3 separate regions of the Homo sapiens genome follow, and all the other regions are linked to region 2. The links come from fine-mapping of genetic effects on gene expression. A gene starts in region 2. Each other region holds a variant in brackets. All regions are shown on one strand. Distances are from middle to middle.

What was found.
Region 1: its variant is fine-mapped to the expression of TSEN54 in whole blood (TOPMed, PIP above 0.99).
Region 3: its variant is fine-mapped to the expression of TSEN54 in whole blood (TOPMed, PIP 0.96).

The regions. Positions count from the first base shown.
Region 1 is chr17:75,536,653-75,546,774 of GRCh38, forward strand. It overlaps LLGL2 (LLGL scribble cell polarity complex component 2), which reads left to right. Exons shown (of 26, transcript NM_001031803.2): 2 at 6,745-6,849. The coding sequence starts at 6,775. Among named protein-coding and RNA genes, the nearest start is that of LLGL2, 16 kb to the left of the region's middle. RefSeq lists enhancers at 4,876-5,693, 8,054-8,856. The variant ACCT/A (reference allele first, on the strand shown) is at 5,584.
Region 2 is chr17:75,511,250-75,521,371 of GRCh38, forward strand. TSEN54 (tRNA splicing endonuclease subunit 54) reads left to right here and starts at 5,279. Exons shown (of 11, transcript NM_207346.3): 1 at 5,279-5,367; 2 at 5,497-5,661; 3 at 5,760-5,823; 4 at 5,912-5,995; 5 at 6,308-6,406; 6 at 7,746-7,798. The coding sequence starts at 5,312. It overlaps CASKIN2 (CASK interacting protein 2), which reads right to left and starts at 4,288. Exons shown (of 20, transcript NM_020753.5): 1 at 4,152-4,288; 2 at 2,462-2,959. The coding sequence starts at 2,555. RefSeq lists enhancers at 3,398-3,964, 5,059-5,353 and silencers at 4,138-4,747, 5,138-5,517.
Region 3 is chr17:75,646,568-75,651,567 of GRCh38, forward strand. It overlaps RECQL5 (RecQ like helicase 5), which reads right to left. Exons shown (of 20, transcript NM_004259.7): 8 at 4,619-4,698. ERLN (endoregulin) reads left to right here. Exons shown (of 2, transcript NM_001162997.2): 1 at 1-219; 2 at 804-1,407. The coding sequence starts at 810. The coding sequence ends at 998. It overlaps LOC107985013 (a long non-coding RNA gene), which reads left to right and starts at 4,069. Exons shown (of 3, transcript XR_001753017.1): 1 at 4,069-4,204. RefSeq lists an enhancer at 1-2. The variant G/T (reference allele first, on the strand shown) is at 2,285.

The sequences.
Region 1 (10,122 bases), 25 kb after region 2:
TCCACCCTGCCTAGGAGGCAGATAAACAAAAAGGAGAAAAAAGAATCACCACTAATCCCATAACCCTTCCGAGTACATTGTCAAATATAGGGATTTTTAATAGATTCTACCTGACTCTTGGATTCTTTGTACATATAGTCCCATGCCATGAAATGGTCTTTTCTCCATTTATTTATTTATTTATTTACTTTTTGAGATGGAGTCTTTCTCTGTCACCCAGGCTGGAGTGCAGTGGCGCTATCTGGGCTCACTGCAACTTCCACCTCCCGAGTTCAAGCAGTTCTCCTGCCTCAGCCTCCCAAGTAGCTGGGGTTACAGGCACCCACCACCATGCCCGGCTAATTTTTTTTAGTAGAGACGGGGTTTTGGCATGTTGGCCAGGCTGCTCGCAAACTCCTGACCTCAAGTGATCCACCCGCCTCGGCCTCCCAAAGTGTTGGGATTACAGACGTGAGCCACAGCGCCCGGCCCTTTTATTCCTTTTAATGACTGGAAGCCTTTTGTCATAGGCCTGAGCACACTTCACCCATCCCCTGTTGTGGGCCATTTAGGTTGCTTCTGATTTTTTCTGACAGCTTAATAAACAGCACATCAAGGCCAGGAGACATGCATGAGCCTGGGAGGCTGTCCCTGTCCACCATGGTTTCAATGGATCATTTTATCCTAAGGTGTGTTTCTTCCCCATCTGAACCCATCTTGACCATTCTCAGGACTCTGAGATAAAATGGTCCCTTTACCCCTTAGGATAAAATGATCCCAGGCTGGGTGCGGTGGCTCACGCCTATAATCCTAGCACTTTGTGGGGCCGAGGTGGGCAGATCACTTGAGATCAGGAGTTCGAGACCAGCCTGGCCAATATGGTGAAAACCACAGCTCTACTAAAAATAACAAAAAAATTAGCCAGGCATGGTGGTGGACACCTGTAATTCCAGCTACTTGGGAGGCTGAGGCAGGAGAATTGCTTGAACCTGGGAAACACAGTTGCAGTGAGCTAAGATTACACCACTGCACTTCAGCCTGGGCGACAGAGCGAGACTCCATCTCCAAAAAAAAAAAATCCCTTAAAACCATGGTGGACAGGGACAGCCTCCCAGCCTCCTAGGACTCGGAGAATGGTCAGGATGGGTTCAGATGGGAAGGCTTTTTGGAAGGTGACCTTTTTTTTTTTTTTTTTTTGAGACAGTCTCTCTCTGTTGCCCCGGCTGTATTACAGTGGCACAATCTCGATTCACTGCAGCCTCCGCCTCCTGGGTTCAAGCAATTCTCCTGCCTCAGCCTCCTGAGTAGTTGGGACCACATGGTGCCCGTCACCATACCTGGCTAATTTTTTGTCTTTTTAGTAGAGATGAGGTTTTGCTGTGTTGGCCAAGCTAGTCTCAAACTCCTGGCCTCAAGTGATCAGCCCGCCTTGGCCTCCCAAACTGCTGGGATTACAGGCGTGAGCCACCTCGCCCAGCCTGGAAGGGGGGCCGGGCTGATTGAGGGGGCAAGAAGGTATTTCAGACAGAGAATGGCAGGGACCATAGTGAATGGGGCCAGGGTGGGGCTGAGTAGATGGAGCAGCCAACAGGGCCAAGGAGAGAGGGCCAGTGACATGGAGGAGGGAACGGGGGGTGGGCAGGCCCCATCAGGTCCCTGCCTAGGACAGCTCAGGAGGCCCACTTTGTCATCTCTCTCATGTCATCTGCACAGATCTCTGCATTGGGCCCCCCACTTGTCTTCATCCTGAAACATAGAAGCCTCTCTCATCTTGAGGCTTTGCAGCTGTTGTTCCTTCTGCCTAACACACTGTGCCCCAAGTTGTCTGTGGCTGGCCCCTTCCCACCAGTCAGTCTCAGTGGAGACCTCGCCTCCTCTGTTCATTCATTCATTCAACAGATAACGAGTGAGGACTCGCTGTGTGCACTCGGATACAGCAGTGAATAAAAGGACAAAAGGTCTTGAATGGGAAAAAGAAAGCTGCTGCTTGTGGGGGATTCCACAGGTAATCAACAAGATTAATAAGTAAGCTATTCAGTGTGTCCAAACGTGGCCAGGTCCAAGGAGAAAAGCGGTGCAGGGAGGGAGAGAGAACATCCCAGGAGATTGCAGCTTCAGGTCGGGGAGGGCGTGAAGGTATCTGGAGGAAAGTGACCCAGGCAGTAGGAACAGGGAACGCACAGGCTCTGACAAGGGAATGGTCACTGAGACCTGTTGGCCACCAAAGCCTAGTTGCTGGATCTTCGCATCCTCTTTTTCTTTCTTTTTCTTTTTTTTAGAAACAAGAGTCTCGCTCTGTGGCCCAGGCTGGAGTGCAGTGGTACAGTCATAGCTCACAGCAGCCTCAAACTCCTGGGCTCCACTGATCTTCCCGCCTCAGCCTCCCAAGTAGCTGGGACCACAGGTGCTTGACACCATGCCTGGCTAATCCTTTTTGTTTGTTTTGAGACAGAGTTTCGCTCTGTCACCTAGGCTAGAGTACAGTGGTGGGTTCATAGCTCACTGCAGCCTCAACTTCCCAGGCTCAGCAATCCTTCCACCTTAGCCTTTTGAGTGGCTGGGACCACAGGTGCATGCCACCATGCCCAGCTAATTTTGTTTTTATTATTTTTAGAGATAGGGTCTCCCTATGTTGCCCTGGCTGGTCTTGAACTCCTGAGCTCAAGTGATCCTCCCACCGTAGCCTCCCAAAGTGGATTACAAGCATGAGCCACTGTGCCCAGCCCTCCTTTCTTTTCAAAATTTTTATTGTTCCATGTAAATTTGAAAAAATGTCCTTTCCTTTTTTTTTTAGAGACAGGGTCTCACTATGTTGCCCAGGCTGGTCGTCTCCAGCTCCTAGGCTCAAGTGATCCTCCCACCTTGGCCTCCCAAAGTGCTGGGATTATAGGAGTGAGCCACCGTGCCCAGCCCATCTCTTTTTTTTGATCAGAGATAGTCCTGACCTCTGTCAGAAATCATCCCATTTTCTGGTTACTTTTTTTTTTTTTTTTTTATACAGAATTTCACTCCGTCACCCAGACTGGAGTGCAGTGGTGCGATCTCAGCTCACTGTAACCTCCACCTCCCAGGTTCAAGTGATTCTCCTGCCTCAGCCTCCTGAGTAGCTGAAACTACAGGAGCACACTACCAGACTCAGTTAATTTTTGTATTTTTAGTAGAGACGGGGTTTCACCATGTTGACCCAGGCTGGTCTCGAACTCCTGACCTCAAGTGATCCACCCGCCTCGGCCTCCCAGAGTGCTGGGATTACAGGTGTGAGTTACTGCGGCTGGTTGGAAATCATCCCATTTTCTGATTTGTGTCCTGTGAAGTGTCTGTTGCTCCCCTGTCACTGCTGTATCCCTTTCCTAGGACAGTGTCTGCTCCATGCCAAGCTCTTGCTCCTTCTACAGGATCTGTGTGGGAGGGAGTGCCATCCCCCTTTACAGAGGAGCTGTCTCTGGAGGCCATGTGGCTTGGGGGAGCTATGCGGTGCTGTGATGGTGAGCCCTGGCCTGTTGGCCCCTAGCCCAGGGCTCTTTCCCTTACAACCCCTGGCTCCCTCCAGGAATGGGCTGAGTAGGCAGGATCTGTTCATACCAGGCGTCTCTAGGCCTGGCTTCCTGAAGTTTCTCTGCAGAGAACCTGCTTGTCTGGGGTGGGGAGCTGAGGAGCCACCTGGAGGTGAGGCCCGCCAGGTCTAGACCAGCCCCCTCTTCAAGGAAGCGTGGTGCTTTTCCATGCCTTGACCTGGGCAGTGGGTTGATTGGAGTGAGGGGATACCATGCCCACCCTGCCTTGGTCCTCCTGGCTCCATCACCCCATGCCCATGAGGTCCCAGCCCCGTGTGGGAAGAGCAGCAGGTCCACACAAGGCCACCAGCCCTGCCCAGCCAGACCTCGCCAGCACCCTGTCAGCAGCGGCCAGTCCCCAGGCCCCAGACTGCCGGGTCGGCTCTGAGCTGCCAGCATCTGGGAGCGTGTCTGTGCGTGTCCCTGCCTCTTAATTGCAAGGGTGTCATTGGGCATCCTTTGTTCTGTATTATCCATCCATCACTGCTACCCACAGCCCTTCTGACTTGGGGTCCAGTCCGAGTTCTGCCGCTTCCTACTTGGTGACCTTGACAGGGTGTTTTGCTGCTGTGGTCTGTTTCCTTGCCTGTCTAGTGGGGACGTTCTGCTTACCTTTCAGATGGCTTCCCAGATCAGGGTGGTGTGAGGGGCTCCACGCTCACAAACTCACACAGTGCCAAGGAAAGGAGATGGCCAGGACATTCAGCGACCCATGACTGTGACTCTCTGGATGCTGGGGTTTAGGGAGGATTTTCTTGTCTGTATTTGGTTTTTCTACAATGGGCACAGATTACTTGAGCAAAATGTTTTAAATGGAATAGGATGCAGAGGGTCTGGTACACTCACTCCCTACTGCACAGCAGGTGCCCCAGGGAGCATTTGGGTGGGTGGGTGGTGCTCAGTGTCCACGCCCTCCTGATGCCATTGCTACACCCTGTCTTCCTCCTTCCTACTGGCACCTCCTCCCAGCCCCCAGTTCTGCCTTGTCACTTTTAAGCCTGTGTGGAGTCTTTGGCACGGATGGCCCTGTGCCCTCTTGTCCCCTCCCTGGAGTCTGCAGGCAGTGGTCACTCTCCAGGGAGCCCCCACCAAGCTTCCTCTGACTTCTGACCCAGTGACCTTGGCCTGGGCCCCGGGTGGGGGTGTGAGCCCTCCAGGAGTCCAACTGGTTTATGAGTGTGAGCTGCCCTCCCCCAGGCTGCAATGCTGGGCCAGCAGATCTGGGTGTCCCCTCACTTCCATTCCAGAAGCCCTTGGGGCTTTCCCAGCCGGTGCCTGTTCTCTGAACCCCCTTGGGACCTTGGATCAAGTGGGCCCTAGGAGTTTCCCGGCCACCTGCTCTTCCCCAGCAAAGTGGGATCCCCACCTCTGGTCTGACTCCTCCAAAATGTGAAGGCAGGAACATCCCGGAATGACCCCCTTTTTCAGTTTCCCCAGAAGGTGACAGCGCTCTGGGGGCTGGTTCCTGGTATTCGGTTTTGAGATAACTGACCGTGCAGATCCTTTCACTCAAGGGGGATGTGGCTCTGCTTTTTTTTTTTTTTTTTTTTTTTTTTTTTTTGAGATACTGTTTTTGCTCTGTTGCCCAGGCCGGAGTGCAATGGCCTGATCTTGGCTCACTGCAACCTCCGCCTCTTGGGTTCTAGCAATTCTCCTGCCTTAGCCTTCCAAGTAGCTGGGATTACAGGCGTCTGCCACCACACTCGGCTAACTTTTTGTATTTTTAGTAGAGACGAGGTTTCACCATGTTGGCCAGGCTGGTCTCAAACTCTTGACCTGAGGTGATCCACCTGCCTCCGCCTCCCAAAGTGCTGGGATTACAAGACTGCCATTTTTTACAGTGCGATTTTGTAAAATCGGGTCACCCTCCCAGCACAGCAAGCCCTCGGTTCCTCTGCCCGAAGACACCCCCAACTCTGCCACGCACGTTACCTACCTTCTCCCACGCTGCCCAGATTACATGGGATCCTATCATATGCAAAGTCCTGACCTGATGGTTAATTTTTGCCACCTCCCAAGAACGCGAAATCCTTCAAACCTCAGCTTAGAT[ACCT/A]TCTTCTCGAAGGTATCTAAGCTGCCTCCCACTTCGGGCCAGGTGTTCCCTCTCCCTCCTGCAGTCAAAGCACTCAACACTGGGCTGCCCTGTCTCTACCTGTCCCTGCCTGGAGCACGCGCCTCCAGGGTGCGGCCTGGATCTGCTTCCTTCCCCCATCCTGCTGGGAGTGGACGGAGCTGTGCCCAGGGTCTGTGTTTCCCAAGGACGGGCCTTGCTGTCCTGTGGTCAGCAGGAGGCTGAGCTACTGGAAGCCAGAAGCTGGAGCACAGAGGCTCCTTCCCCTTCCCCCAAGGATAATCCAGAAATGGTTTCCCCTTGGGCTGGGAATGGATTCTATGGTGGGCGGAGAGTTTAGGGGCCTTGAGCTGGTTTCTTTATTGGGAGCAGATTCCTCCTGATTATTCTCCACTAGGGCCCGTGGGAAAGAGAACCTTTCTGAGCACAGCCCATGAGCGCACAGGGAAGCTGGACTGGGGCTAGCCAGAGAGAGGGGAGGGGACCGGCAGAGACCCCAGGCACGGTGGCATGGGCCAGCACCCCCTGACCGAGTGCTCTGTGCCACCCGTGCCCACTTGAGTTTCTCATGGCTGTGGCTGGTTGGAGAGGCTGAGGCCGAGAGTCCCTGGACAGCCTTCCCCGAGGTCAGAAGGAGGAAGCATCTGCCCGGTGCCCTGGCCTGGAGTCACTGCAGGCCTCTCCCCTGCCCCGACTTGGGCTCTGATCTGGGAAGGATGGCCTTGGTGTTTCTACCTTCCACAAGACTTTGGAGGAAGAGGCTTGCGAAGTTTCCCTTTCTGCTTAGCTGGAGTTTCATGGTTTCTCAGAAAACAGGTTAACAATTAAGCTAATTAACCTCAGGGCCCGCCGGCCCTCCTTGTGCTTATAAAGCCAGGCTAAATGGCTTCCTCCCCCAGCTTTTCCTACCCCCATTATAAGGCCACAGGTGGTGACAGCCTTCAGCCCTGAGGTGGGCCGGCCTCTAGATCTGAGCGTGGGGAAGCCAGGGTGCATGGGCGGTCACTGTGAAGCTGGCCTGGCCCCGGGGTGGCAGCCTACTGGACTTGGAGAGAGAGGCCCTGCTCCACCTGTTTGGGCCGGGCCTAATCGATACCTGAGTGCCAGGACAGACCCCTGCAGCTCCTTCTGTTTCTCCAGGTCTCCAGTGGGGGCTGCAGACTAAGCAAAATGAGGCGGTTCCTGAGGCCAGGGCATGACCCTGTGCGGGAGAGGCTCAAGCGGGACCTGTTCCAGTTTAACAAGGTAAGTTAGGGAGAGCAGGGAAGATGACCCCCAGGTTTTCGGCCAAGCAGCTCAGGCTGGGGCTGAGGCACCTCTTACCTGGATTAAGGTATAGCTCTTATGTGACTGCCTGCAGTGCCTCTTGGGACTCAGACTTTGGAAATGGGGCCTGGTTAAAGGGCTTTTATAGAAAAGGGGAATAGGTTGCCCTCATGAGTTGGGACTTCTCATCTGAAGGCTTTCACTGGCTGTGTGACCTCTGCAAGTCACTCCACCTCATGGAGCCTCAGTTTCCCTACCTGTATCATGGGAATAAAACGATCTGCCATGTCTACCTCGGCACAGGGTTGTCAAGGAGGTTTAGGGACGTGGGAGATGAAAGGATGAACTCTTCAGGGGGTGATAATGTTCCAGGTCCCTTGGGGCCCTGGAGTCACAGGCCATGGCTGTTTCTCCCTTCTCAAATTGCCCCTGAAGGAAAATGCAGCTCCCCTGCAGGCTGAACACGTGATTCCTTCTGGCTCCGGCCGGGGTGAGTGGGGAGAGGTGCCCAGGAGAATGAGCCGGAGTTGGCCTCGGACTACCCCAATCCCAAACCTGTATCCGGGGTACCAGAAGGCCCACGGGGCTTCCCTTCAGGAGTCTGGGGCCTGAGAAGGTCAGGACGGGCCTGTACGCAGGAGGCGTGCAGTGTGGCTCTTCAGCTCCCGGGCCACCAAGCAGTGTGGGGCCTTGTGAGGTAATGATCTTCTCACCTCTGCTTTGCGCCTCTGCTGGGAAGGTGGGCTGCAGGAACTGGGACACTGTGATCCTCTTCCCCCGGGGAGCCAGGACCCTCCCAATATGCTGAGGGCAGGACATGTGGCTTTCGTTGGGGGCTTCCGTTTGGGCTCCCCTGCCCCCGAAAGGAAGCAGTGGATGTGAGACCAGACAGTCTGGAAAAGGGATGTCTCCCTGTGGAGAATGAGGAAGTCTCTTTGGTTGTATTTTTGTTATTGATTTGAGAACTGTAGAAGTCAGCTTGCCCAGGTGCAAACCCAACTTTGCCACATAGAAGCTGGATGGCCGTGTGCCTGTCGCCCACACCATAGGCTTGTTAAGGGCGTACGTGGGGTGAGGTAACTTAAGTGCTAGGCACAGTGGCCCAGGAATGCTGGCTGCTGCTGTGGGCTGGAGGGGATCTCCGTGACCTCCCTGTTGGGAGAGGTGGGTCGTGGGGTGGAGGGACCTCCCTGACCTCCCCGTTGGGAGAGGTGGGTCAGCGCTCCCAATGTGCCCTGCCATTTCTCTCTGTGTTTCTTAGCCTGTGGGAGGAGTTGGTGTCCCTGATGGAGCTTTGCCACGAGGACATTTGCCTCTGGAATTAGGGCTTTCCTATCCCAACGTGCCTCCTGCCAGCTCGCTTTTGGGCCTTGGGATATGGGGGTGCAGGTGTTGGGAATGGGAGATCTCAGGACACCTACAGCCTGCTACCCTTGCTCTGGAGGGAGTAGCCTATGGGTGCTGGGTCTCAAAGCTTCGGTGTCCACGGGAGATGGAAGGGAACTGAGTGACCCCCATCTGCCTCCAGTCTTTCGCTTTGAAAAGGTGGCAGAAACCTGACAGGCTCAGCAAATAGGGCTGAACACCCCCCTACCCCTGCCCCCTTGCACCAAGTTCTGTCTGTGCAGCTGAGTGAGGCTAGGGTGGAGCTGGGGCAAGGAGTTGTCCCTTCTTCTTTCCCCTATCCCCCAGGGGTGATCCCCAAACTTGATTGTCCCACTCCCAGGCCTGGGGGTGGCAGAGGGAGGCTCCTGGGTCTCCTGCTCTGCCTTCTTCTTTCCATTCATATGCAAGAAGCATGCATTGAGCACTTACTGGATCCACAGCCCAAGGCTCAGGGCTATGGGAATCTGATTAGGCCTCTGCCCTCCACTTTTACAGTCTGCAGGAGGGAGGAGGCTGATGGCCTGAAATTTCAGGCCTTGGAAGTGGAGAGGAGGAAGGGGAGAGCCCAGGGGATTCAGGAGCGGGGTAGACTCATCCGGCTCGGGGAGTGTGGTGGGGCCAGCAGGGTGGGATTGGAGGATGAGGCCAGATCCCAGAGGATTTGGGATCCCGTCTGCCCTGCCCCTCCCCAGCCCAGGCTGTGAAGCAGGGAGGCTGCTGGTATCTGGGCCTGATCTGACCCTGCGGCTCCAGGGGTTGTGAGCAAGGGAGTGAATAGTGGTCCCATTTACAATGTAGGAAAGATAAACCTGGAGATGTTTTTACCCTTTGGGCAAGGCAGGTAAGCTCAGAGCAGTTAGGAGACATTGCCCCGACTAAGATAGGTGACAGCCCAGAAGGAAGGGACTGGAAGCCCAGCCAGTGGGGATGGGAACGAGGCATGAATTGAGCAGGGTTTCTCAACTTCAGCACTCACAGATGATATTTGAGGCTGGCTGTGCTGCGGAGGCTGTCCTGTGCGTTGTAGATTATTTAGCAGTGTCCCTAGTCCTACCCACTAGATGCCAGTAGCACATACATACACACACAGCCTGTCAAGATGTGACAACCAAGAATGTTTCCTGAGGGGTAAAATCGCTCCTGGTTTGAGACCCATGGAATAGAGAACTATTCAGGGCTGAGATCTGCTGATGGGGCAGTAAAGAGGGAGGGGATGGGGAGGGGAGGCGGGTGTGCAGGATGACCGTGAAGTCTCTGACCTGGGTAGGTGGTGGTGCCAGGCCTTGGGAGGGGGAGCCCAGGCCAGGAGTGGCGAAGAACAGATTTGAGGAAAAGTAATGTATTTTGATCGTTTTGATTTGGACACAATCGCAACAACAGTGCTCTCCATTTTTGGAGAGGCAGCTTGCCCAGAGGTGAGTGGTGCCGACTGCCCGGCTCGCCAGCTGTGTGACCTTGAGCAGGTCACATGCCTCTGAGATAATGATAATCAGAGCCACTCCATCCATAGAGTTGGTGTGAGGACTACATGAGTTCCTGCACGAATCGAAGGCCACGTCTGGCTGGCGGCTGCAGTGTCCGGCAGCATCGTTCTGTGGTGGGTGTCATGTGGCTTGAGGTTGAGTTGGGGGAGCCTTGGGACAGGCCCAGCAGACAGGCGGAGGGCAGGTCCAGCAGACAGGCGGAGGGCAGGTCCAGCAGACAGGCGGAGGGCAGGTCCAGCAGACAGGCGGAGGGCAGGTCCAGCAGACAGGCGGAGGGCAGGTCCAGCAGACAGGCGGAGGGCAGGTCCAGCAGACAGACGGAGGGCAGGTCCAGCAGACAGGCGGAGGGCAGGTCCAGCAGACAGGCGGAGGGCAGGTCCAG
Region 2 (10,122 bases):
GGGGCTTCACCACGTTGCCCAGGCTGGTCTCGAACTCCTGACGTCAAGTGATCTGCCCACCTCGGCCTCCCAAAGTGAGACCCTATCTCTTTAAAAAGAAAAGAACAGAACAATCCCTAGGTAATACTGATGGGCAGCTGAGTGCAGAGCACAGGGGACAGGGTGCAGCTTTGCCTCTGCTCTGCCATGCTATGGCTGTGTGACTTTAGGCAAGTCACTAACCCTCTCTGAGCATCACTTTCCTTATCTACAGAACGGATATTGAAATACCTATCTCACAGGCAAGTGAGGAAATTATAATATTTCATACACTATAAGGTTTGCAAATGTCACCTTGTGATCTCACTTTTGTCACCAGCCTCTCCAGCTTCTCAGAGGACTGGGAGGGGAGGCACAGTGCCAGGGCCTCATAAGGAATCCCAGGCCCCAGTCATGCTGTGCCTGAGCCTACAGCCTGCGCAGGGTGAATTCTCCACTTTGGGACTGAGGGAAGGGACCTCCTTCCCCACAGACGCTTCCCACTGGGCACAAGGGAACTTCTCGGAGCCTAAGAGCCCAGCTCTGCAGTTCCCGCCACTGGCCTCCAAACCCCTCCCGCCTGCCCTCCTGAGGGCCTCACTTTGAGGACCCAGAGCGGTGAGGCCAGCAGCAGCTTGACCAAGGCCCCACTGGGCAGGTTGCCAAAAACAACACAGAGGTGACAGAAGAGGGGAGTGGCTGCACTGCTGGACCTTAGGGCCCTCCCCTGGGACCTCCTTAGCACCTCCCCAGTGGCACCCACCCTGTGTCCACTTCCCTAGGCACAGAGACCACCCCACAGCTCCACCTCTCCAGGCCCTGCGTCTCCTGCCCCAGTGTGCTAGTGGATGCATGAGGTTAAGGCCCTTCCTCTGGCACCCATACCCCAGGTGTTCAGGTAGCCTGGGGGACTCCTTCCTGTGCACAGGACCGAGGTGTATCTTGGGGCTAGAGCCCCTGAACTCCAGAGGAGACCTTCCCATCCAGGGAACTCCTCCTGCCTCAGTCTGGTGGCAGGAACCACCTCCTGCCTATGCTGATCTGGGATCTCAAGGTGACAAGTCCAGCGGCCTCCTGGGACAGCCCAGAGAGCCCTCCCTGAAGCCCAGAGGTCTATTCTCCCTGTGGGGGGTCGCACCACAGAGGTACCCAAGACATGGGGCTCAGGTGTGGCCGCTTGTGCATGGATCCCCCACAGCCCGGTCAGGTCTCGAGGCTAGGTGAAAATCTCCAGTAAATGAGCTCTGGCCACACCCCACCAGGACACACATGTCAGGGGAAGAGAAACTTTAGCAACTTGTTAGAGAGTGTTGAACTTTTTTTAAGCAGTAGAATTCCCTTTTTAAAAGCTATCTCGTGGCCTGGTGCGGTGGCTCATGCCTGCAATCCTAGCACTTTGGGAGGCTGAAGCGGGTGGATCACCTGAGGTCAGGAGTTCGAGACCAGCCTGACCTAGATGGTGAAACCCCGTCTCTAGTAAAAATTAGCCAGGCGTTGTGTCAGGCACCTGTAATCCCAGCTACTCGGGAGGCTGAGGCAGAAGAATAGCTTGAACCCGGGAGGCAGAGGCTGCAGTGCGCTGAGATCATGCCACTGCACTCCAGGCCGGGTGAGAAAGCAAGACTCCGTCTCAAAAAAAAAAAACAGCTATCTTATAGATATCCTCTTAAGACACGAACATAGAGGTGCTCTGGTTGAAATGTGTGCGTTTGAGGTTGGGGGTAGGGATGAAGTTCTATCTATTCAGTCTTCTCTAACCCACTGTCAGAAATCTCATGGCTCCAAAGAACACATCAGAAAGACCATCTGCTAGAAGGCAACTCCACGAAGACAGGAATTTGGGTCTGTTTTGTTCACTACTATGATCCAGTGCTTAGAACAGAGCCTGAGCCAGGCACAGTGACTCACGCCTGTAATCCTAGTACTAGGAGGCCTACCTAGGTGGGTGGATCACTTGAGGTCTGGAGTTCGAGACCAGTCTGGTCAACATGGTGAAACCCCCATCTCTACCAAAAATATAAAAAAAAATTAGCCGGGCATGGTGGCACACACCTGTAATCCCAGCTACTAGGGAGGCTGAGGCAGGAGAATGGCTTGAACCCAGAAGGCGGAGGTTCCCGTGAGCCGAGATCCTGCCACTGTACTCCAGCCTGGGTGACAAGCTATAGGCACTCAATAACAATGTGAATGAACGTACTTCAACCCTCTAATTTTGCAGGCCAGGAAACTGCAGCCCAGAGAGGTTAAGTGACTTGCCTAAGGACACACAGCAAGGGGGACCCAACTTTCTCTCTGGCTCTCTCACACAGAGGCACTTCTTACTGAGAACAAGACAGTCCACCCTCCTCAAATATGCAGATCACAGTGACCCACCCCCACCCACCAAGCCTCTGTGAACTGAGCGCTCGGCCTCAGCGGGATGCTCGTCCCACCCGGTACTCACTTGTCTTTGTGGCCTTGACCTTCGCCACCAGTTTCTGCACACCGGTCACATCTCCATTCTTGACGGCGAGGATCAGGTCCTGTTCACGACCCATACTGGCTCCTGGGCTGAGCTCTACACTCAGGAGTCCAGGGCAAAGGCAGGCAACGGGTCCAAGCTGGGGCGTCAGGGCGCCATGCCACAGCCCCTTGGAGGGCTCCCGGTTCCGGGGGAGCAAGTCAGGTGTCCCAGGCAGTGGGCTCCTCGTCAGGTACTGAGGGATACTCCCAAAGGTGCTCCGTGAACTGCCACCACACGAAGGAAAGCTAATCTTTGAGGGGGTGAAGGCTACATGGAAATCTGGATGGATATCAGCTTGTGGCTTCCGACAGCTCCAGGATGGGCTGGGACTGGGCACACCAATCTTCCCGGCTTGGCTGTGGAACACCAGTGCCCACCCAGAGAGCAGCCAGCATTCCCTTGGGCCTCAGGCAGCAGCGGTGCACTGGTCTCAGGGCTCTGGAAAAAGCACGGGGCCTCTGTCGAATGCTGGGCCACAGCCTGCAAGGGTCCCAGAAGTGGAGTGCAGAGGATGAGCAGGACAAGACCTCCAGGGAGCCCCCAAGCCACCCTGGCTCCCCTCGGAGTCGATGGTGATGCTGAGCCACTGAAAGTGGGGAGGAAGCTGCTATGCATGAGAGGAGTATTGGTGGGGGGGAGGTGGCATTCTGGGAGGGGGAGGCTGAGTCACTGGGGCCCCAGGGCACCTGGCAGTACCTCAACCTTGGGCAGGAGGGGCCCTGGCAGCATGACATACTGGGGCAGGCCGGGCCAGCAGCCTGTTCTCCACAGCCCGAGGCTCCGACACCCACAGACAACTGGCGGGCCAGGAGGTGGGGCCGGGAGGGTCAGGCACAGGCAGGCGGGCAGGGGTCACTCCCTGTCAAAGGCACCAGCCCCCAGATTCCTCCCTACGGAGGCTTCAAGGCTTCGCTTTAATGGCTGGATGCCCTAGTCCTAGGACTCTTTGTGAACGGAGAGCATGAAGTGCTTCTGGCCCCCCATTTCTGGGGGCTCTGCCTGCTAGAGAGGGAAGCTGCACAGCACCTGTTGCTGACCCGCCCTCGCCCCTTGTGTCGGGTGGAGGAGCAGCTGGGCAGAGAACAGAGAGAGCTGGGGCACTGCTGACAAACGGGGCTCCCAAGCCCCCCAAGCCTGAACCTGAAGCCCAGACCCTGGACTCCACCGCAGAGAAGCTTACGTCAGTTTCTCGGTGGCAGCGAATTTACTGCCAGAGTCTTGTGGCATGAGATCCGCGCAGGCCTGGGGCCCTGGCCGGGAACCCCTCACTCCCCAAACGTCCCAAGCCCAACCCAGGGGCACTCCCACGCGGAGCCCGCGGCCGACACGGGCGGAGGGCGCCCTTGGCAGTGCCTGGGGTCGGGCTGGCTCCCCCGCCCCCCGGAATGTCCCTCCAGCGCCTCGCAACCCCCCAGCCCAGCCCAGCCCAGCCCAGGCCCACCGGGGAACAAAGCGGCGGGAGAAGCCGGGCGGGCCAAGCGCCCGAGGTATAAACGCGGAGGATGGAAAAAGGGGCGCGAGGAGGACGGAAGGAGCGGGGAGATGGAGGTGCCCGCCGACCCCGCAAGAAAAGTTAGTTTGCGCCCGCCCCCAGGGGCGCTGACCCCCAGCGCGGGCCCCGCAGCCTCACCTCTCCCGGCCGCCCGCCGGGGTCCGGCTGGCCCTGCTCGGTCCCTGGCACTCAGGACGGTGGCTCCCACTCCCCCCTGCCCCCCTTTCTCCTTCTCCTTTTCCAAGGCCGGCTCGGCGCCTCCCGCAGGAAATCCCGCCCCTCCCCCCTCCCTCCCGCCGGATCGGGAACGGAGGGACCGTCCCGGCCGCGCAGTCAGGCTGTCAGTCAGCACCGGCGGCTCCGCCCCCATCCGCGCCAGATCCCGCCCCAACTCGTGCCCGCCCGGACCGGGGGCGCTGACCGGATCAGCGCATGCGCCCAGGTGAAACGGAGGGGCGGGGGGCGCGGGGGCAGAGGTGACCTGGGGCTCTGGACTTAGACCCAAGGGCTAGACACCCCGGGTCTGACTGGTGGGAGAGAAGACGTAATGTGAAGGGGGTTGGCAACCAAGACGCGGGACCCCACTTGCAGTACCCCCCGTCTGCGGCCGGCGTCGCCCACCCGCAGCCGCCGGCCGGGCAATGGCACCACCTAGCGGACGGCACCAGTGCGGGGACCCCAGCCTCGAGGAGGCGCTCGTGCCGGGCGGAGGTGGCGCTTCAGCACCGTCGTGGGCCGGACAGCGCCTCCCGCCCCCGGCCCTCGAAACCTGGCTTCGGAGCCCAGCCGTAGGGACCGGACGGAAGACACCGAAGGAATGGCGAACCTCCCCGGACCGCTCCTGACAGTTCCCGGGTGGCCTTCGGCCTGCAAAGTCGGAATTTGCACACCCTCCGCTCGTCCTTCCCTGAGCCCTTCTGCCCTCCTTGCCCAGCCCGGGCGGTGGGGACTAAGCAGCGCGAGGCTGCAGAGGGGCGGTCACAAGTGTGACCATTCGCACTGCACTCCAGACGCCGGCTCCTCAGGCTTTACTGGAGAGAAGCCCCGAGGAGGGCTAGGGGCAAAAGAGGGGCCTTCTGCATCTCCAGCAACCTGCGGGCTGAGCTCCCAGACCCGGCGTCGGGGTGCGCTTCCGGGCGGGCGCTAGGACCGGGGACAATCAGGAGGGCGCAGAGCGGGCTGGGGCGGTGCAGGGGGCGGGGCTGCCGCGGCATTGCGGATCGGCGGGCACTAGGGCAGCGCGGAGCTCCGGCGGTGGGCGGGGCGTGGCGGCGCGCGCAGCGGCAGGCGGCGGCGGGATGGAGCCCGAGCCCGAGCCCGCGGCCGTGGAGGTTCCCGCGGGGCGCGTGCTCAGGTGCGGCGCGGCCCGGCCGGAGTGGGTGTCGGGGGCGCGGGGCCAGCGCGGGTAGGGAAACCGGCGCCCGGGACCCGGCCAGGCGGCCCCCGATGCGCGGCGCTGACCCCGCGTCCCCTTCTCCCCCAGCGCCCGGGAGCTCTTCGCCGCCCGCTCGCGGTCGCAGAAGCTGCCCCAGCGCTCGCATGGCCCCAAGGACTTTCTGCCCGACGGCTCGGCAGCTCAGGCCGAGCGGCTGCGCCGGTGCCGGGAAGAGCTCTGGCAGCTGCTGGCAGAGCAGCGCGTGGAGCGCCTGTGAGAGGGGCGGGCCCAGGGGTAAGGGAAGCGGGGGCGAGGCGGGCCGCGGGGTCTCCGGAATGGACTGACGCAGACCCCTCCCCACTCCTCGCCAGGGGCAGCTTGGTGGCTGCCGAGTGGAGGCCAGAAGAGGGCTTCGTGGAGTTGAAGTCTCCCGCGGTGAGCGGCGGGCTCGGGGACCGGGGACCGCCCTCCCTGCCCTCCCTGCCCTCCCTCCCTTGTGACACTTGCTCTGGGCCCCACACAGGGCAAATTCTGGCAGACCATGGGCTTCTCAGAGCAGGGCCGGCAGCGCCTTCACCCGGAAGAGGCCTTGTATCTTCTGGAGTGTGTAAGTGGGGCCCGGGAGGTGGGGAAGGAGTTGGGACCAAAGAACGGGAAGGACACGTTTTATCGGAGAAAAAGCACACACAACCCGGTCTTTAGAGAACTGATAACCAAACTTCTAAAGCAGGAGGTGGTACGTTGCAGGGAGCAGGGATTCCAGTCCACATTAGTGATGCTGCCCCACTTTCCTGGTTGGCCACATTCTTGATGCGCTGCTGAGAGGGGGAGGGGGAGGTATCAGAGCTGGGAAGTTGCCCCATTCCTCTGTGGCACTGTAGTGAGGGCTCATAAGCTGAGCTGTTGGCCCCACTTCCAGGGCTCCATCCACCTCTTCCACCAAGACCTGCCACTGTCTATCCAGGAAGCTTACCAGCTGCTGCTGACCGACCACACTGTGACCTTCCTGCAGTACCAGGTATCTGCCACCACCCCGCCTCCGGGAGCCACCCATCCACTGAATCAATGAGTATTGACAAGTACCCATAAGGTGCCAGGCACAGTGTCACATGCTGGGGCTGCAGGGCAGACGAGGGCTATGCTGTCACGAGGCTTACATTGTGGTGGTGGCCTGTTGGCTTCACATAGACCCCAGTGCTGTCAGAAGATAAGGTGGGGGAAGAGAATCCAAAGAGACTGGGCTGTTCATTCAGGTGAGAGAAGCTAGGGGCTTGTCGCAGGTTGGGGGTGGGTAGAGTTGCAGTGAGTGAAAAATAGATGAATCTCAGAAATATTTTGGAGAAAGAATGGATAGGACTGCCAATGGATTGGATGTCAGGATTAAGGAGAGAGAAGAACCCAGGATTACCGCCCATGATTTGGGCATGCACCAGTGGATGAAGGTGCTGTCATTTTCTGAGTGGGAAGAATGAAGAGGAGCAGATTTGGGAGGACAAGACCAGTCGAAAGAACTGTGTCAGATAAGTTAATTTTGAGGAGCTTCTTGGACATCCAAGTGAGTGTAAAGCAGACAGACAATTGGAATCCAAGTCTGGAGTGTGAGGAGAGGTCAAGGCTAGATGTAAATATGGGTGCCATGAGCACATGGATGGTATTTAAACTACTGGGCTGTATGGGAGTGCCATCAGAGTAGAGGGCTGGGTCTGAGCCCTGGGGCTCTCTGTGTAGGTTAGGGGGCAGATAAGAAGCAGAAACAGACCGAGGAGTGTCTGGTGATGCAGGAGAAAAACCAAAGTCGCATCACAGAAGCCAAAAGAAGGTCTTTCAAGGAGGAAGTGGTTAGCTGTGCTAAAGCCTGCTGAGATCAAGCAGGATGGGGGACATTCTTATCTATGTTCCTCTGATATGAATGCAGGGACACAAGGTTGAATATGTGGCTCCCTACCAGAAACTTCCCACCGGCATCTGTGGAGGTGTGGGGCTGGAGAGATGCCCACCACCTGCCATCATTTTGTTCACATGGTGATCGGCAGCTTCACTCCTATGAGCTTTGTATCAAAATACTCAAGTATTTCAGGGCGTGGTGGTTTTCTGGTTTCATGGCTATCAGTTTTTTTGGATTTGGCTAAATGTCATTTGTGCCGAGTAAGGTAAGTGGGAGGACAGGAATTCAGAGCCTGAGATCTTTAGGGATGGTGTTCGTAATGAAGCATGGTCCAACCTTAATCACAGGGTTTAGAATCTGGGGGTGTACAGGAGGGGCAGAGAGGGCTGTGGGGATGGCCTGTGTCTGGAGAAACCATTTGGTGTTTTCCAGAGTGGCCATCTGAGCTTTCATTTTTTTTTTTTCTTTTGAGGTCTTCAGCCACCTGAAGAGGTTGGGTTATGTGGTTCGACGATTCCAACCAAGGTAAATCCCCTTCCTGTTCCCCTTCCATATATTCTAGTCCTGGGACCTGGCTGACTAGTCTAAGGTAGAAAATGGCCTCTCCTTACCTGGAACCCTTGGCTGGAGTGCAGTTCCTTGGGCACAGACTGGGGGCGCCTGCTGGAAGCGTTCTGAGAGAGGCAGGTTGGGAGGAATCCAGGTCATTTTGTTTTATTCTGGTTTATGAACTCGAGCCGCATCTTCAGATGACCTGCGCCTGCAGCTGAGTGTGTGTGAGCACTGAGAGGCAGGATTGGAACAGTGCCTGGCACTTAGTAGGTGCGCAGGCAGGTATGTAGAGTGTATGCTTAAATGAAGGACTGGGTGAAGAATTTACCATTAGTAGGGTTTCACATTTTTCATGCCAGGTTAAATGTTTTTTCCTTCATCACCTTAGTAATCCAGCATTGGTAAAAGGCAGAGACCTTCAGACTTGGAGTGGAAACGGGTACAGCTTTTGCAGTTACAGTATGTCACAAAAGCTCTAAAGCAGGCACATCTTTTCTTTTCTTTTTGAGACGGAGTCTCACTCTGTCGCCCAGGCTGTAGTGCAGTGGCATGATCTCAGCTTACTGTAGCCTCTGCCTCCTGGGTTCAAGCAGTTCTCCTGCCTCAGCCTCCCAAGTAGCTGGGATTACAGGCGTGTGCCACCATGCCTGGCTAATTTTTTTATTTTATTTTATTTTTAGTACAGATGGGGTTTCACTGTGTTGCCCAGGCTGGTCTCGAACTCCTGACCTCAAATGATCCTCCCGCCTCAGCCTCCCAAAGTGCTGGGATTACAGGCATGAGTCACCACGCCCAGCTCTACATCTTTTCTTTTCTGAAAGTGGAACCTATCCTAAGGAAATAATCGTGGACGTGTACAGTGGTTCACCTGTGAGAATGATCAACGATATTTATTATTTGCTGGGGGTCAGGCCCTGTACACATCGCTGAGAACAGAAGAGCAAAATCACTGCCCTCACAGAGCTTGCATTTAGTGAGGAGTCACACAGAACACACTCACTGTGCAAAATCAGTGTACTTGCAAACAAGAGTTGAACAAGAGGCAGGCTCACACAAATGAGAGGTTATCCCTTAGAGCAGCTCTGTCCAATAGAACTTTCTGTAATGATGAAAATGTTCTGTGTCTGTGATGTCTAATACATGGGGCTAGAGCAACTGTGGGACTGAATGTTTAATTTCATTTAATTTAAATGTATTTAAATCTAACTTAAATAGGCTGGTGTGGTGGCTCACGCCTATAATCCCAGCATTTTGGGAGGCCGACGCGGGCGGATCGCGTGAGCTCAGGAGTACGAGACCAGCCTGGACAGCGTGGTGAAACCCTGTCTCTACTAAAATACCAAAAAAAAAAAAAAAAAAAAATCAGCCAGGTGTGGTGGCAGGCGCCTATAGTCCCAGCTATTCAGGAGGCTGAGGCACGAGAATTGCTTGAACCTGGGCAGCTGAGGTTGCAGTGAGCCGAGATCTTGCCAGTGCACTCCAGCCTGGGCGAAAAAGCGAAACTCTATCTCAAAAAAAAAAGCAAACTTAAATAGCCACCTGTCGCTAGTGGCTCTTTTTTGAACAGCATTGCCTTAAAGCCTTAATTCACAGCCAGGAGGCCAGGCACAGTGGCTCACACCTGTAATCCCAGCACTTTAGGAGGCCGAGGCAGGTGGATCATGAGGTCAGGAGATGGAGACCATCCCGGCCAGCATGGTGAAACCTTGTCTCTACTAAGAATACAAAAATTAGCTGGGCATGGTGGCACGCGCCTGTAGTCCCGGTACTACTCGGGATGCTGAGGCAGGAGAATCGCTTGAACCCAGGAGATGGAGGTTGCAGTGAGCCAAGATTGTGCCACTGCACTCCAGCCCGGTGAGAGAACGAGACTGTGTCTCAAAAAAAAAAAAAAAAGAAAAAGGAAAAAATTCACAGCAGGGAAGAATGCTGCAGTGACGGGGCTGTGTCCACAATATATTATTGAGTGAAAAAAAAGATCACAAAGCAGTATGCTAGTACAATGACATTTTTGTTAGAAAAAAATATATGGAGAGAGATTAGTGTGTACATAAACGAAAGAAAGATGTTAACAATAGTTATCCAAGGTTTTTATTTTTCTATATTTACCAAGTTTGCTAGCTCCTCTGGGCCATTGCCTAGGCAGAGGCACATGGCTGGGCCCCCTGGCTGGGCCTGTACCCCTCATGGGGGTCTGCTTAGGGCCTTAGCACTTGGGTGTGGCTCCGATCCTGGCCCACTGACTGTCCTCTTGGCCCGTTTCCTTACACATCCCACCAGATCCCCAGGCTGAGGAG
Region 3 (5,000 bases), 130 kb after region 2:
CCCTAGCCCACCTTTGTTTGTTTGGTGACAGCAACTAAGGTCTGGTCAGGGCCGCTTGGCCACGCTCATGCCTTTTCCTCTCAACAGTTGCTTCTTTGAGTCAGGGTGCAGCTCTGGTCACCTGGCGGCCTCTTCAGCTCAGCCCTCCACAAAGTGTGAGCCTGAAGGACCACCCTGAATTGCCCTTGTAGGACCCAGAACAGCTACCAGCAGAATCAGGTAATGGCTCCCTCCTTCTCCACCTGGGCTGCCCTCACCTGGCTATGGGCTTGCAGTCTGCGATAAGGAGCTCCGCTTCTAGAGGACTCCTAAGTTCTATTCTCAGCTGCTCCAAGGAGGCTACCGAGGCCTCAGCTGGAGTTGGCCCCTCCTCGGCTCCTATACGCTCTCTCAAATGCCTCCCAAATGTTTGGCAGTTGGGGCAGGAAAAACAGGGAGACTCTATCATGATGCTTTTTAGATTCTAGCCAAGTAGGTCTCAGGGATGAGAGAGAGTCCTTGCTCACACTTGCTACTCAGGAAAGAAGGACTGGAGAATCCAGGGGCATCCCCTAGGAAGAATCCAGGGCCCCACTTCTTGCGCCAGTCCTGGCTCCTGTATCTAGAGCGGGGGAAATGCCATTTGCTGCTGGCTGCAGGCATCCAGCACAAAGACTCTAGCCCTTTCATGTCCCCTGGCTGCCAGGCGGGCCGGCTGCTCACAGAGGCTGCTACAGAGGCTGGAGTCGGCGGGCAGAGCATAGCACCTGGGACAGGGCCTGGGAGGGCTGCCTGCACTCAGGTCCTCTGTCCCTCTTTTCCAGATTCTCATGGACCAACTGGTATTCAAAGAGACAATCTGGAATGATGCGTTCTGGCAGAACCCCTGGGACCAGGGGGGCCTGGCAGTGATTATCTTATTCATCACCGCTGTCCTGCTTCTCATCTTATTTGCCATCGTGTTTGGTTTACTCACTTCCACAGAAAACACTCAGTGTGAAGCGGGTGAAGAGGAGTGACCTGACTTGCTGGGGACTGAGATGGCAGCAGGGGAGGCGAGCTGACCTGCCCCCATTCCAGTGGTGGGCCCCTTCGCGGTTCCCTCTGGCTCAGGGGCCAAGCCCTGGTGTCTTCCTTTCCCATCAGGAAAAAGTCTAGTAAAATACTGTATCTGGCTTAGGGTTGGTCAGACTAGTAAGATGGGGAGGCTGGTCTGAGACCAATTCTGGCTCCTTGACCCTATTGTTTTTAGGGTTCCCCGACCAGAACCCTAAAAGCACATGGAGAGGATGGCTCCACTGCCTCAGGTGGAAGGAGCTATGGCTAACAAGGTTCTCTAACAGGCTCACAGGCCCAGCCAGCAATTTCACAAATCCTTGACAGAGAAAGACACAACCAAATGAAATAAAAATTCCTTTTCAAATCTGCTAACTTGTGAGAGCTCATTTTTAATCCAGATAGAGCCACCAGAGCAAGCTTCCCGAACAAAGCCGCACCGGGGCCTGCACGCTCTAGCCTGCCTGTCTCCAGCCATCTTGCCCACCCCATCCTGCCCTGCCCCTGGGTTCTCAGCGTGTCTTTCAGTTCTTGAATATGCTGTGTTCTCTCCCACCACAGGGCCTTTGCACATGCTATTCTCATTGACCGGGATGCTCTCCCTCACACCACACTTTACTCTATGGCCTAGTTAGTCCTTCCTCATCCTTTGTATCTCCGTTTGAACCTGACTCCCTCAGGTAAATCTTCCCTAACCCTCAAGGATTAGGGTAAGGCCACTTGTTTTATACTCTCGAAACACCATTTACAGGACTTATATGTCTTTGTTGTTGTTGTTTCTTTGTTTTTGAGACAGAGTCTTGCTCTGTCACCCAGGCTAGAGTGCGGTGGCGCTATCTGGGCTCACTGCAAACTCCACCTCCCGGGTCACGCCATTCTCCTGCCTCAGCCTCCCGAGTAGCTGGGACTACAGGCTCCCACCACCGTGACCGGCTAATTTTTTTGTATTTTTAGTAGAGATGGGGTTTCACCGTGTTAGCCAGGATGGTCTCGATCTCCTCACCTTGTGATCCACCCGCCTCAGCCTCCAAAGTGCTAGGATTACACGCATGAGCCACGGCGCCCGGCCTTTTTTTTTTTTTTTTTTTGAGATGGGGTCTCACTCCCATCACCCAGGCTGCACTGTAGTGGCACCATCTCGGCTCACTGCAGATTCGACTTCTGAGTTTACATGATCCTCCCATCTCAGCCTCCTGAGCAGCTGGGACTACAGGCATGTGCCACCATGCCTGGCTAATTGTGTTTTTTG[G/T]TTTTTTTTTTTTGTATTTTTAGTAGAGACAGGGTCTTGCCATGTTGCCCAGGCTGGTCTTGAACTCCCAGGCTCAAGCGATCCTCCCACTTCAGCCTCCCAAAGTGCTGGTATAACAGGTATGAGCCACCATGGCCGGCTCTGGGACGGGGCTATTTCTGCCCACTAGTGTATCCCCCATGTCCAATGTGCCTGGCACAGAGCTGGCATCAGTCAATATTTATCAGCTGAATAAATGAATGAATGAGTAAACACACAGAGAAACAAGAAGATGCCAGGCTGTTGGGCACCCCCAGCCCCAAGATCCCAGGAAACAACAGGGCCCAATTCAATCCAGGTCTAAACACAAGGCTGCTCTTCCATCTCAAGATGCCGAGGCCTCAAGCTGGAGGTTGCTTCAAACCTAATAACTGTTCCCTGTGACACTAAAAGACACTCATTGTTATGAATAATCAAACACTGCTTTTTCAAGGCTGCAGCCCAGAGAAAGTAGCTACAGATAGAGAAGAGAGGAAAACCGCTGGCTGCCACAGCCCCGCCTCATTAGTTAACTGACCTGAGTATCTTTTCTGCTGGTCCCACTCCCATGTGCCTCAGACCCCACAACAAACTGACAAGAAACCTACAGCTTCCTTTGCAGAAATGCACCCACTTCTGCTGAGCCCACCCCACTAGCTCTGTCCCTCACTGCCAGGTGCCCGCCCCAAGGGATCGCTGGTGGGAGGCTGCTTCGACCTCAGCCTCCAATGAGAACTATTCTTAGGAAGCAAATATCTGGTGGAGAAGGGGCTTTTTCTTTGTGCTACACGCCAGTTATGCAATAAAGAAACATTCACTTATTCAAAGAACAGTAGCCAATACAGACATACCAGCAGCGTTTATTCCAGCCTGCTGCCTGGATTTCAGAATCATCACATGTAGCAAAGGAGACAGGCACGAGGCTGCTCAAGAGGCAGCGCAACACCGTCACCTGGACTCCTTGAGTCCACAGATGCCTGGACCCCAGCCCCTGGCAACCAGGCCACTGATGCACTAAGAAGTCCCAGCTCCCCGGAAGGTGACAGGAGAAATGAAGGCAGAGGCCCTTGGGAGGACCTGTTCCCTTGCCTGGCAGGCGGAGCAGACCCTGGGGACAGGCAGAGTTAACCCTCCAGAGAGCATTCCAGAGCCTCAGACAGCCCCAGAGCTTTTTTCAGCAAACAGGACTCACAATGAACAGGAACACTTGGCCCTTTCATTCCTCACCAGAAATAAGAGCTCTGCTCAAGAAGCCTAAGAAGGCCAAATTTAGCAACTCCCATATTAATTGTGCTTGAAAAGGGCTCTGGTCGCAAAGGCTGCAGGCAAGGGTGGTCCTGGCACTGCAGCCGACCACTTTTGCTGGGCGTGGTCTTGCCACAGAGGCCAAATTAGAGACAGCAGTTTGGAGAAGAAAATAGCTTCAGTCCAGAAGCCACCGACTCACTGGTCAACAGGAGGAGGTGGAAATAAAAACACACAGCCCAAAGAGTTTCTCTGATTTCCTCGCTTTTTTCTTGCAAAAACCAAGATGGCCCAGGTGTATGCAAATGAGGACGCCACTGAAAATCAGGAGACGGGTGTTTAGTGGCCTCAGTCTACCATGAGCTTCGTGACTGTGACCTCTCTGGACCTCAATTTATTCACCTCTAAGTCTGAAGCAATCACGTCAGCGTCATCCGACAGGATCATTCCATGAGATGAGATGAATCCAAGAGCTTTTTAGACCAAAATGTAAAAACTCCTCCTGGGTGTCTCTCCTGCAGGCACTCACAGCTCCGCATGCCTGGACACAACCTGACTACACCAAGCAGCCCTCAGACTCTTTCCGTGGCCCCTGCCCCATCGCCTGCAGATGCAGGTAAAACAGATGCGTGAGTTCAAAGCACATGACTCCCCGAGGTAAGTGGGGCCACAGGCTTCTGTGTGGGTCCTGGATAAGGGTGAGGACTACTCAAGTGATGCCAGAAGTCCCAGCTCGGTGGCACATGATGACCACAAAGCCGATGGCTCAGAGCTGGTCACATCCCTTGGAACTGAGTGGCTTGTGGGGCCAGCCATCCCAGAAGAGGGTGGAGTGGAGGGAAGGACACCACTCAGAATACTGAGCAAATCCCCACACTGCGAGAGATCCCGGGGCCTCCAATAGAGAAGAGCAAGGTCCTGACTTCCACACTGCCCGACACAACAGCCTTTGCAGGCAGGTGTCCCTTGGTAGCCTACGGGCTGTCTTATGTCAGCTGCTTAACTAGGGCGTGCCGGGGAAGTAAATGATCTCACTGACACTTTGCTCCACATATAAAATAAGTCACTTACCCCAGTTCTTCACAGAAGGTCACCAGGGCATCAAAGGCCATGATAGTGGCTTTATCAGATGCTTTGTTTCCTCTCTTTTCCTGGGGACAAAAAATGACCACTTAGCAAGTCTTATAGAATTGGACTACCTTAGAGCCACAAAAAGTAATGAGGAGGCCGAGTGCGGTGGCTCACGGCTGTAATCCCAGCACTTTGGGAGGCTGAGCCAGGAGGATCATTTGAGGTCAGGAGTTCGAGACCAGCCTGACCTACATGGTGAAACCCTGTCTCTACTAAAAATACAAAAAAATTAGCCAGGTGTGGCAGCGCATGCCTGTAGTCCCAGCTACTTGGGAGACTGAGGCAGAAGAATCACTTGAACCCAGGAGGTGGAGGTTTCAGC